Linked DNA regions of Homo sapiens. The protein of the gene in region 2 purifies or fractionates together with the protein of the main gene of each other region. This does not show direct contact. Each region holds a gene or a part of one and is shown on either strand. Other genes may lie near its edges. The genes, in order: KRT82, PLEKHB2 and KRT85.

Evidence for each region.
Region 1: the proteins of PLEKHB2 (region 2) and KRT82 purify together in Homo sapiens (affinity purification with mass spectrometry; one large-scale study listed by BioGRID and IntAct). This does not show direct contact.
Region 3: the proteins of PLEKHB2 (region 2) and KRT85 purify together in Homo sapiens (affinity purification with mass spectrometry; one large-scale study listed by BioGRID and IntAct). This does not show direct contact.

What each region holds. Positions count from the first base shown.
Region 1 is NC_000012.12:52,393,394-52,396,455, reverse strand, and holds the end of KRT82 (keratin, type II cuticular Hb2), read left to right. Parts: intron 1-223; coding exon 224-444; intron 445-665; coding exon 666-697; intron 698-1,260; coding exon 1,261-1,481; 3' UTR 1,482-2,525; downstream 2,526-3,062.
Region 2 is NC_000002.12:131,125,752-131,129,408, forward strand, and holds part of PLEKHB2 (pleckstrin homology domain-containing family B member 2), read left to right. Parts: intron 1-1; coding exon 2-154; intron 155-932; coding exon 933-1,035; intron 1,036-3,657. UniProt on the Homo sapiens protein: Involved in retrograde transport of recycling endosomes.
Region 3 is NC_000012.12:52,361,837-52,364,481, reverse strand, and holds part of KRT85 (keratin, type II cuticular Hb5), read left to right. Parts: exon of another isoform or gene 1-61; coding exon of another isoform or gene 62-115; coding exon 116-176; intron 177-318; coding exon 319-414; intron 415-1,071; coding exon 1,072-1,236; intron 1,237-1,502; coding exon 1,503-1,628; intron 1,629-2,010; coding exon 2,011-2,231; intron 2,232-2,645.

The DNA.
Region 1 (3,062 bases), on a different chromosome or scaffold from region 2:
AAATTTCTCAGCATACTTAAGAGGAAAATCCCCGCTCTCTTGGAGGTATTTTAGACAGAAAACCCATCCCAGTTCCCTGGAGGAACCAGATGTCGCAATCCTAGGATGAAGCTCGCAAATGTGAGCCTGGCACGTAGCCACCCCCGTGTTCTCTCTGCTCTTCTGCGAGTCTGGCTTGGGGCTCCAGGGCCCCCAGTGATGCTTTTCTGCGCCCCTCCCACAGCGCTGCAAACTTGAGGGTGCCATAGCTGAGGCAGAGCAGCAGGGCGAGGCGGCTCTCAATGATGCCAAGTGCAAGCTGGCAGGGCTGGAGGAGGCTCTGCAGAAGGCCAAGCAGGACATGGCCTGCCTGCTCAAGGAATATCAGGAGGTGATGAACTCCAAGCTGGGCCTGGACATCGAGATCGCCACCTACAGGCGCCTGCTGGAGGGTGAAGAGCACAGGTGAGCTCCTCCAGGAGGGGGTCAAAGATGGGCTACCAGGTATGGCCATTACCCAGCCCTCTGGTGGCGGCTGCTAGTATCTCTCACCCCGTCCCCTACCCACATTCATTGAAAACCCACAGCAGCACATGGTCCACAATGAGGGCGGGAGCGGGGAGATGCTGCATTTACCTGCATCTGTTTGATGTAGATACCTGTTTTCTTTTTCCTCTCATCCCCAGGCTGTGCGAAGGCATCGGGCCCGTGAATATCTGTAAGTAGATGAGCCATGCCCCACTGGCTCTGGAGTCTTGGGGGTTGATCACCCCAACACAGGCAGCCCACACCACCCCTTCCTAGACCTCTGATGCCTCCCCTACCCCAAAGGAAGAGCTCTGTCTGCCGTGAGCTCCCAGGCTGGTGGAAAGGGCTATCCAAATCTTTTGGGAGTCAGACTAGGAGCAGATTTGCAACAACATGGTCCAAGTGCTTCAGGGCCCAGAAGCCACAAATAACCACCCTGACAAGAGGATGCTCTTCTAGAGGAAGAGGATTTGAAGCAAGCTTAGGAAGGAGGGACCAGTAGAAACTGAGAAATGGTGAAGCTGAATCCAGCCTGGCCTTGCCCAGGCTCTAGGGAAAGGAGAGAGGTGCATGGGGACCTTGCAAGCACTTTATGTGGCTAGGGTGGGAGACGCGGAGGCTGGAGGCTGGAATGGGGTGTCTGTAGAGGTGAGTGGCAGGAGGTGGGAGGAATGGCCTGGCTGAGTAGTTTCAGGGCAGTACACTGAGAGCCACACCGTGTGGGGCCCTGAGCACCCCTTCCTGTTCCCACAGCAGTGAGCAGCTCCAAAGGCGCCTTCCTGTACGAGCCATGTGGGGTCAGCACGCCTGTCCTCAGCACTGGCGTCCTCAGGAGCAATGGGGGCTGCAGCATCGTGGGCACTGGTGAACTCTATGTCCCCTGCGAGCCCCAGGGGCTACTGAGCTGTGGGAGCGGGCGGAAATCCAGCATGACGCTAGGAGCTGGGGGCAGCTCCCCCAGCCACAAGCATTAGCATGATCCGAGACATCCAGGAGACAGAGCCCCTGCCCCATGGCCCTGGATGTCACACTCCCACCAGGGCTGAAGACAAGGATGTTCCAAAACCCCACCTCCCTTTATTGACTCCACATTCCCCTCCAGTGTTCCCTCCTTGAGAGCTGAGCTGCCCCTAGGACCCCTCCTTTGCCTCATGAGTCACCTTCCACTCACCTGTGTGCAGACCCTCAGCTAGGCCCAGATGGTGGGGACAGACGGCAGAGAAAGAGCATGCATTGCTCTTAACCGCAGAATGGCAATAACCCCCAAAAGGTCAAATGGGCACACCACAGTTCTGCTCTGTGGATCATCCCATGGAAGTTTCCTCACAAAGTCAGCTCCTCTCCCACCACAGGCTCACACTGCCCTTACTTTAGGCTCTCATGCCCCTAAGAAAAGTGAATTTCCTTTAACACCGCCTGAAACATGCACACTGCAAATATCAAAAGGAGACACCCCCAAATCCCACTCTAAATTCCAAAGCCAAGTGCCACGATTTCAGGATCAGTCAGGACCTGCCAATGTCCTCTCAGCACAGAGAATCAAGAGGTGGCCTTTGGGCAGTAGATTTACTTTCTCAGGTATGTTGAACCCAAACTGTGAGAATAAATCTTTCTCCTGAGCTCACATTGGCAGGTGATGTCAGGCCAATGCCTAGAACAAAGGGCAAAGGGATATGGAATGTTTACTGGACAGTTGGAAAACCAAAAACAGATACCATTTTCTCAATGGAATCAGTTCCCCCTCCACCCATCCCCTTCTGTACATAGCCGCCCCTTCCTGTTCCCCAACCCTTTAGCTCCTTTTGCTTTGAGTCTGATATGACAGTGATGTGGGGCTGCCCCAGCTGACTTGGAGGCCCTGGCTCAGGAGCTCATAGATGGAGGAGGTGTGGGCTGACTACCTCCCAGAAGCCCCTCATGCCAAGCCTGTCCCACTGGGGCTCCAGGGCCTCTGCCCTGAACATCTGGGCTTCTGTTCAAAATAAACCTACTCTGTTCATGGATTATAGCAATCAGGATTATTTACTCTGCTCTGTGGAAAGTGTGATAAGGCTGAGGGGGAACTGGTGAGCAGCTTTTTGGGACTGGAGTCTTCGGAACAGAAATGAAGACTATTATACAAACAGAAACACTACATGTAAATAATTTGCAAATTGCCTGTGGAAGAAATAGGGCTCTATACAAATCACACTTAAAACCTGCACGTCACACCCCAATGGTTTGCAAGTCACTTGCCATGTTAAAAGCCACAAGCCCATTGCACACAGGCCTCCTCACTACATGGTGTCCTATACACATCCTAGAGAAAATCCTTGGGGTCCTCTATTGTGTCTAGACTTAGCAGCCCCCAAGCCCTAGGCTCTGTCCCTATCCCGAACCATTCTCAGTGCCTGGATACCCCCAGCTCCAGGAAAGCAGTGAAGATGGTGGCAGCCCATGGAGTGAGGAGGACCAGGACACTCCAGTCTCCTCTCCCCATTTAGAGAGCCCAAGACCTGGAGATTTGGCGGCGGTGCTTCCACCCTCTGTGAGGCCTCAGTCCCCTTTCCTCTGCC
Region 2 (3,657 bases):
GGTACTATTTTGAAGCGCTGGAAGAAGAACTGGTTTGATCTGTGGTCGGATGGTCACCTGATCTATTATGATGACCAGACTCGGCAGAATATCGAGGATAAGGTCCACATGCCAATGGACTGCATCAACATCCGCACGGGGCAGGAATGTCGGGGTAAGCTGGCCTGTCTTGGCCAACTTCTGTCTTCTGCTCTTCCTCTGTCTTGCTGGGAGCTTGGTCCTCTTCCTTCCCTGTTCTGCTTTCATTAACAGATTGAAGAAGGGCTCCATCTCAGAGGGGCGACCACAGTGGGGCCCCAGGCACTTAGATTATGAACCACATGGTCGGGAAATATCAGTGTTCTCAGTCCACGTCCCTCGTTCTCGTGGAGAGGGAGCCAGAGCTCTGGGAACCTCAGGAAGCACAGGCCACCCTAGACTACGTTGATTTTGTACTCAGAAACTGGCTTCTGTTTGATGGTGACTCCAGTCAATTGCTTAAAATCTGGGATGTTGGCCAGGCATGGTGGCTCATGCCTGTAATCCCAGCACTTTGGGAGGCCGAGGTGGGTGGATCACGAGGGCAGGAGTTCAAGACCACCCTGGCCAAGATGGTGAAACCCCAACTCTACTAAAAATACAAAAAAATTAGCCAGGTGTGGTGGCAGGTGCCTGTAATCTGGCTACTCAGGAGGCTGAGGTAGAGAATTGCTTGAACCCGGGAGTCAGAGGTTGCAGTGAGCCGAATATATTTTGTGGACGTCATCTTGGCAGCTGGTCTTGTCAGTCAGCCTAGCTATGTTCTTTCTGCATTCTTGGAAAGGCAGAGGGTTCTTTCATAGATGTAGCACTTGATTTATTGTCTAGTCCTTTGCTTCTCTGAGCTGGTAGTTCTTAGAAAATGTAAGAAGAAATCCTGAAAAAAGTTCCTTTATTCTGCTTATTTTTCATAGATACTCAGCCCCCGGATGGAAAGTCAAAAGACTGCATGCTCCAGATTGTTTGTCGAGATGGGAAAACAATTAGTCTTTGTGCAGAAAGCACAGATGATTGCTTGTAAGTTTTGCTTTCTTATGTGTTTAATTTAAAAAGTATTTTCTATTTTAACTTCTGATTACCAAAAAATGAAAAGAAAGGGCGTGGAGTTTTCTTTCAGGCATCAGAATAAGGGACTCAGTGGATGTATGAGAGAAATGCAAGAGTCGCTTTTCCAATTCTAGTTTCTGCCTCTCTCAGACTGCCTAGGCCGATCCCATTGTGGTGAAAATGGCAGAAAGGAATAGCAGTCTCATCATGCTGTCTTTCATTATTAGATTCACAGTGGGTAACGGGCATAGTTGAAATAAAATGACCAGAAAAGCAAGAAAGTAAAGAGTAAGGAAACTGTCAGTTCCTAGGGCTGCTGTCACAAATTGCTGAACACTGAGTGACGGAAATGGCAGAAATTCATTGTCTCATAGTTCTGGAGGCTGGAAGTCTGGAATCAGTGTGTCAGCAGATCCTTGCTCCCTCTGAGATGCTGGGTAGGATCCTTTCTTGCCTCTTCCTAGCTTCTGGTGGTTGCTGGTAGTCCTTGGTGTTCTTTGGCTGACAGCCACATCACTCCGGTCTCTGCCTCTGTTGTCACATGGCCTTCTTCGGCTGTGTCTGTGTCCAGAATTCTCTTTTCTTATAAAGGACACCAATCATAATGGATTAAGGACCCACCTTAATTCACTATGACCTTATCTTAATTTGATTCCATATGCAAATATCCTATTTCCACATAAGGTCCCATTTGAGGGTACTGGGGATTAGGATTTATACATATCTTTTTCATGAGGACACAATTGAACCCATAATAGAGACTTTTGAGAAAGATGGTGAAATGGATTAGAGATCATCTTCCCTGAGGGGAAAACATTTCAATGGTGCAACCAAATAAAGAAGTTTGATCTCAAGCACAAACTACAAACAGTTAAAGAAAGAAATAGATGATTCTACTGAGATGTTCTTCAATCCTACCCGAATCCCAGAAGCAGTGACAAGATGAGTTAATTAAATCTTGCAAATTTTCAGTATTACCCTGTAATCTGGAGTGATGCTGATTAAGTGTAAGTTACTTTTTGGAAAAGCTAGGGAAAAAATCCTTAAGAATGTGATGTCCTTGGGGCCTCAGCAGAGGCTGGACGGTTCTCCCAGGACTCATCATTGCAGGGCAGTGAAAGGCACTGAAGCTCACAGGAGTTGGGTAATTTTCTGTCTGGTGAAGTGAGCCCTAGCATGGGACATTCAAAGGAATATGCTCAGAAGAGAGTGTAGGACCCAGAGTTTTCAGAAAAGACTTACTCGGTCTCAGAAGAAATGTCCTTCTCTTCTAGCCCTGTGCCCTCAGATTACAGAATGTTGATTGTGAGGGTAACACCTAGCCATCAAACTGTTGCTGGGCTGGACTGAGGTAGAACAGGGTGGAACTACCAGTTGATACCAGATTAGGTAGGAAGCGTGTCAAGGAGAAATAACTCATACTTTATGAGAGCAAACAGCAGTTTTAGATATCACTTCCCATGTTAAACGTGAGCAGGATGTAAAGAAGTGGCTTGGCAACTATGCAGATATACCATGAAGGAAAAATAAGAAAAGGAAAATGCAAGCCTCAGGAAAAGCTCCTAGAGTGGAGGAAAATAAAACCCAAGAAACAGGAGCAGAGTCTTCAGGAATGCTTTCCTGGCCACCATATTTAAAATTGTATCTCCCTGTCCCCATACACACTCACCATCTATCAACTATTTATCTTGTTCATCATCTGCTTTCATTAGAATATATGCTGTGTGAGGGCAGAGATTTATGTTTCTTTTCTGCTCTTTTGTGTCTGTAACTTAGAAGGTCTGTTGCTGTCAAGAGGGTGCCATTCACGTTATAATCTGAAGAAAGTGGTCTTCCCTTCAATACAACCCCAAATGAAAAGTGAATCATTGGCATGGAAGAAAAGACTGGAGATACTCTCAGTGACAGGAAAAAGATGAAAAGATCAGAGATATGTTAGACTAAAAAAAGTTCAGAAAGATTATTGATGTCCATAAAGTGTACAACCCAAAAGAGAGAATTACAAATCTAAGGCAAGAAAAATGTTCTGAAATAATCGAACTGAATTGGCAGACCAAAGTCCCTACTAGACTCTTCCACCTGATATGACAACAAAATCTATATAAGATATATGAATAATCCAGTATGATACCCTTTAGCAAAGTGAATGACAATGGTATGCCACATACAAAATCAGTTGGGGAATTTTGCAACTTAACTGCATTCCTTAGAAAGCTAGAACACTTGGGCTGGGTGTGGTGGCTCAAGCTTGTAATCCCAGCACTTTGGGAGGTCAAGGCGGATGGATCACCTGAGGTCAGGAGTTCGAGACCAGCCTGGCCAACATGGTGAAACCTCGTCTCTACTAAAAATACAAAAATTAGCCAGGCGTGGTGGCAGGCACCTGTAATCCCAGCTACTTGGGAGGCTGAGGCAGGAGAATGGCGTGAACCTGGGAGGTGGAGGTTGCGGTGAGCCAAGATCACACCACTGTACTCCAGCCTGGACAACAGAGTGAGACTCCATCTCAAAAAAAAAAAAAAAAAAAAAAAAAAAAGAAAGCCAGAACACTTGAAAATAAGTGAATGAATCTTTCAACTCAGGGAGATAGTA
Region 3 (2,645 bases), on a different chromosome or scaffold from region 2:
ACAACATCTGGAGGGGATTAATCCCTTTTCAATCCCCGGAAGAACTTGCCCAGGAGTTGGGATGGTATTCAAGGTCCAGTTTCTCAGCTCCAGACCTTCTCTCTCCCACACCCAGGTATGAAGAGGAGGTGGCCCTGAGAGCCACAGCAGAGAATGAGTTTGTCGTTCTAAAGAAGGTGAGGGGCTGGTCATGGGGCAAGGAGGAGGGGGCCCATCAGTGCAAACTCCAGCGAGGGGCAGGGTCACCATGCTGACCAAAGGCACCTTTCTTTGGTCTCCTCTCACATGCATGTCCCCTCCTCTTTGTCCCACGGCCAGGACGTGGACTGTGCCTACCTGCGGAAATCAGACCTGGAGGCCAATGTGGAGGCCCTGGTGGAGGAGTCTAGCTTCCTGAGGCGCCTCTATGAAGAGGTAAGGGGGCAACTGCCACCCAGCCAGGGCAGGTGGAGGGGTGTTTTGGAGACAGGGGAGCAGTGAGGCAAGGGTGCATGTGTGTGCCTATGTTTGCCAATGTGCAATGTAAGTGTGAAAAGAGCTTGCACATACGTGCTGGGGCCCACAATACAGAGGCCATGTCCACGTTCATGTGTGAGAGGAGCATGGGGTGTACATGTTCTTGGGCTGCTCTGTGTCTGTGACCTCTCTGCATGTTGGTGTGCTGCCTGTGTGAGTGCCAGTCTACAGATGGGCAAGAGAGTGTGCATGTGTGGTGGGGGTCAGGATGGCTTCGCACATAGGGCATGGTCCTCATTAATGGACTGACTAATCACTCATCCTAGCCTCCAAACCCCAGCTCCCCTGCTGGGTGACTTTGGACCAGATCTTTTTCACCCTCTGGGCCTCAGTTTTCCCACTTTTAAGGCAGACACTGTTCCCAGATGGCCTCTACAGCCCCTTTCAGCTTTGTTGTTTTTAAGGAGCCTGTGCATGAGTGAAGGTGGTAGGAGCAGGAGTCATGTAACCTTCATGACCAGTGCCCGGTCTGGGAAGTGGACATTGTCCCCTGGGGTGGATCACGTGGCCCAGATCAGGCACTAGAAGCAAATGCACTGGCTGTTGGCCCCACAGGAGATCCGCGTTCTCCAAGCCCACATCTCAGACACCTCGGTCATAGTCAAGATGGACAACAGCCGAGACCTGAACATGGACTGCATCATCGCTGAGATCAAGGCTCAGTATGACGATGTTGCCAGCCGCAGCCGGGCCGAGGCTGAGTCCTGGTACCGTAGCAAGGTGAGTGGCACAGGACACCTGCCTGCTAAGCATGGCAGTGGGAGGGAAGTTAGGCATCTATTAGAAAAGATTTCTCTTGCCTGGGGATTCTGACCCATGAGGACAGTATGAGAAAAGCCAGTAGTTCTCAGGTTGAAGTGGCAGGGCAGGACTGCCATGTGTGGTTGCACAGGCTGAGCACCGTACAACCTGTATAGTCATCTGTGGTGTCCTGAATGGATGGGGGGCCCCACCCTGAGCCTCATGAGCATCTCTACTTCCTCCAGTGTGAGGAGATGAAGGCCACGGTGATCAGGCATGGGGAGACCCTGCGCCGCACCAAGGAGGAGATCAACGAGCTGAACCGCATGATCCAGAGGCTGACGGCCGAGATTGAGAATGCCAAGTGCCAGGTGGGGTCTGTGGAGGATTCAAATACGCAGCACAGGCAGGCTGCAGCACCTGGCCCTAATCAGGCTTCACAGTGTGCCCATGAGGAAGCAGGGACCCAGAGGGAAGGGAGGGGCTCTATCATATTTCACAGCAATCAGACCATGTCACTGACTTCCAAAGGAGGATCCAGCCCCTTCCTTGGCCACCCTGTGACCGCCATCAAGGAGAGATGATGAAAAGCCCACCCATCTCCTCCCTCATATTCACAGCCCCATTAACTACCTGGCCACGGGCCAACCTTCTCTCCAGGACCCTCCTCTCCCTGCCCTGGCTCCATCAGCTTGGGTGAGCCAAGCTGTGGCTTCTCTTTCTCATCCTGGCCCTTGTATCTCCACCTGATAGCGTGCCAAGCTGGAGGCTGCTGTGGCTGAGGCAGAGCAGCAGGGTGAGGCGGCCCTCAGCGATGCCCGCTGCAAGCTGGCTGAGCTGGAGGGCGCCCTGCAGAAGGCCAAGCAGGACATGGCCTGCCTGCTCAAGGAGTACCAGGAGGTGATGAACTCCAAGCTGGGCCTGGACATCGAGATCGCCACCTACAGGCGCCTGCTGGAGGGCGAGGAACACAGGTGGGGCTAAGAGGACTTTGTGGGGTTTCAGAGGTGGAGGCTGTGGTCCTCCAGGAGTGAATTTCCTTGAGCTGAGTGTGAGCTACAACTCTGGCCATGGCTAATACAATAGCTTCAATAATAATAATAATAATAACTGAATGCTTCTGTGCTAGACCTGTGCTAAGTGTTTATTTTATAATCCTCACAATCCAATAAGATAGATATGGTTTTTCCCATCTTTTTATCTTTAGATAAAGAAGCAGGCTCAGAATTCAGTGCCTTTATCATGGCTACGCAGTTAATAAGCAGAAGAGCTGGGACCTGCACCCAAGTCTCATGCCTCCCAAATCCGTCCTTGTTGAATAGCTTCCTACTGAAGCTGCTGCCACACAGGCCTGTGTGTTATGATGATGATGCACTTCTATATGCATT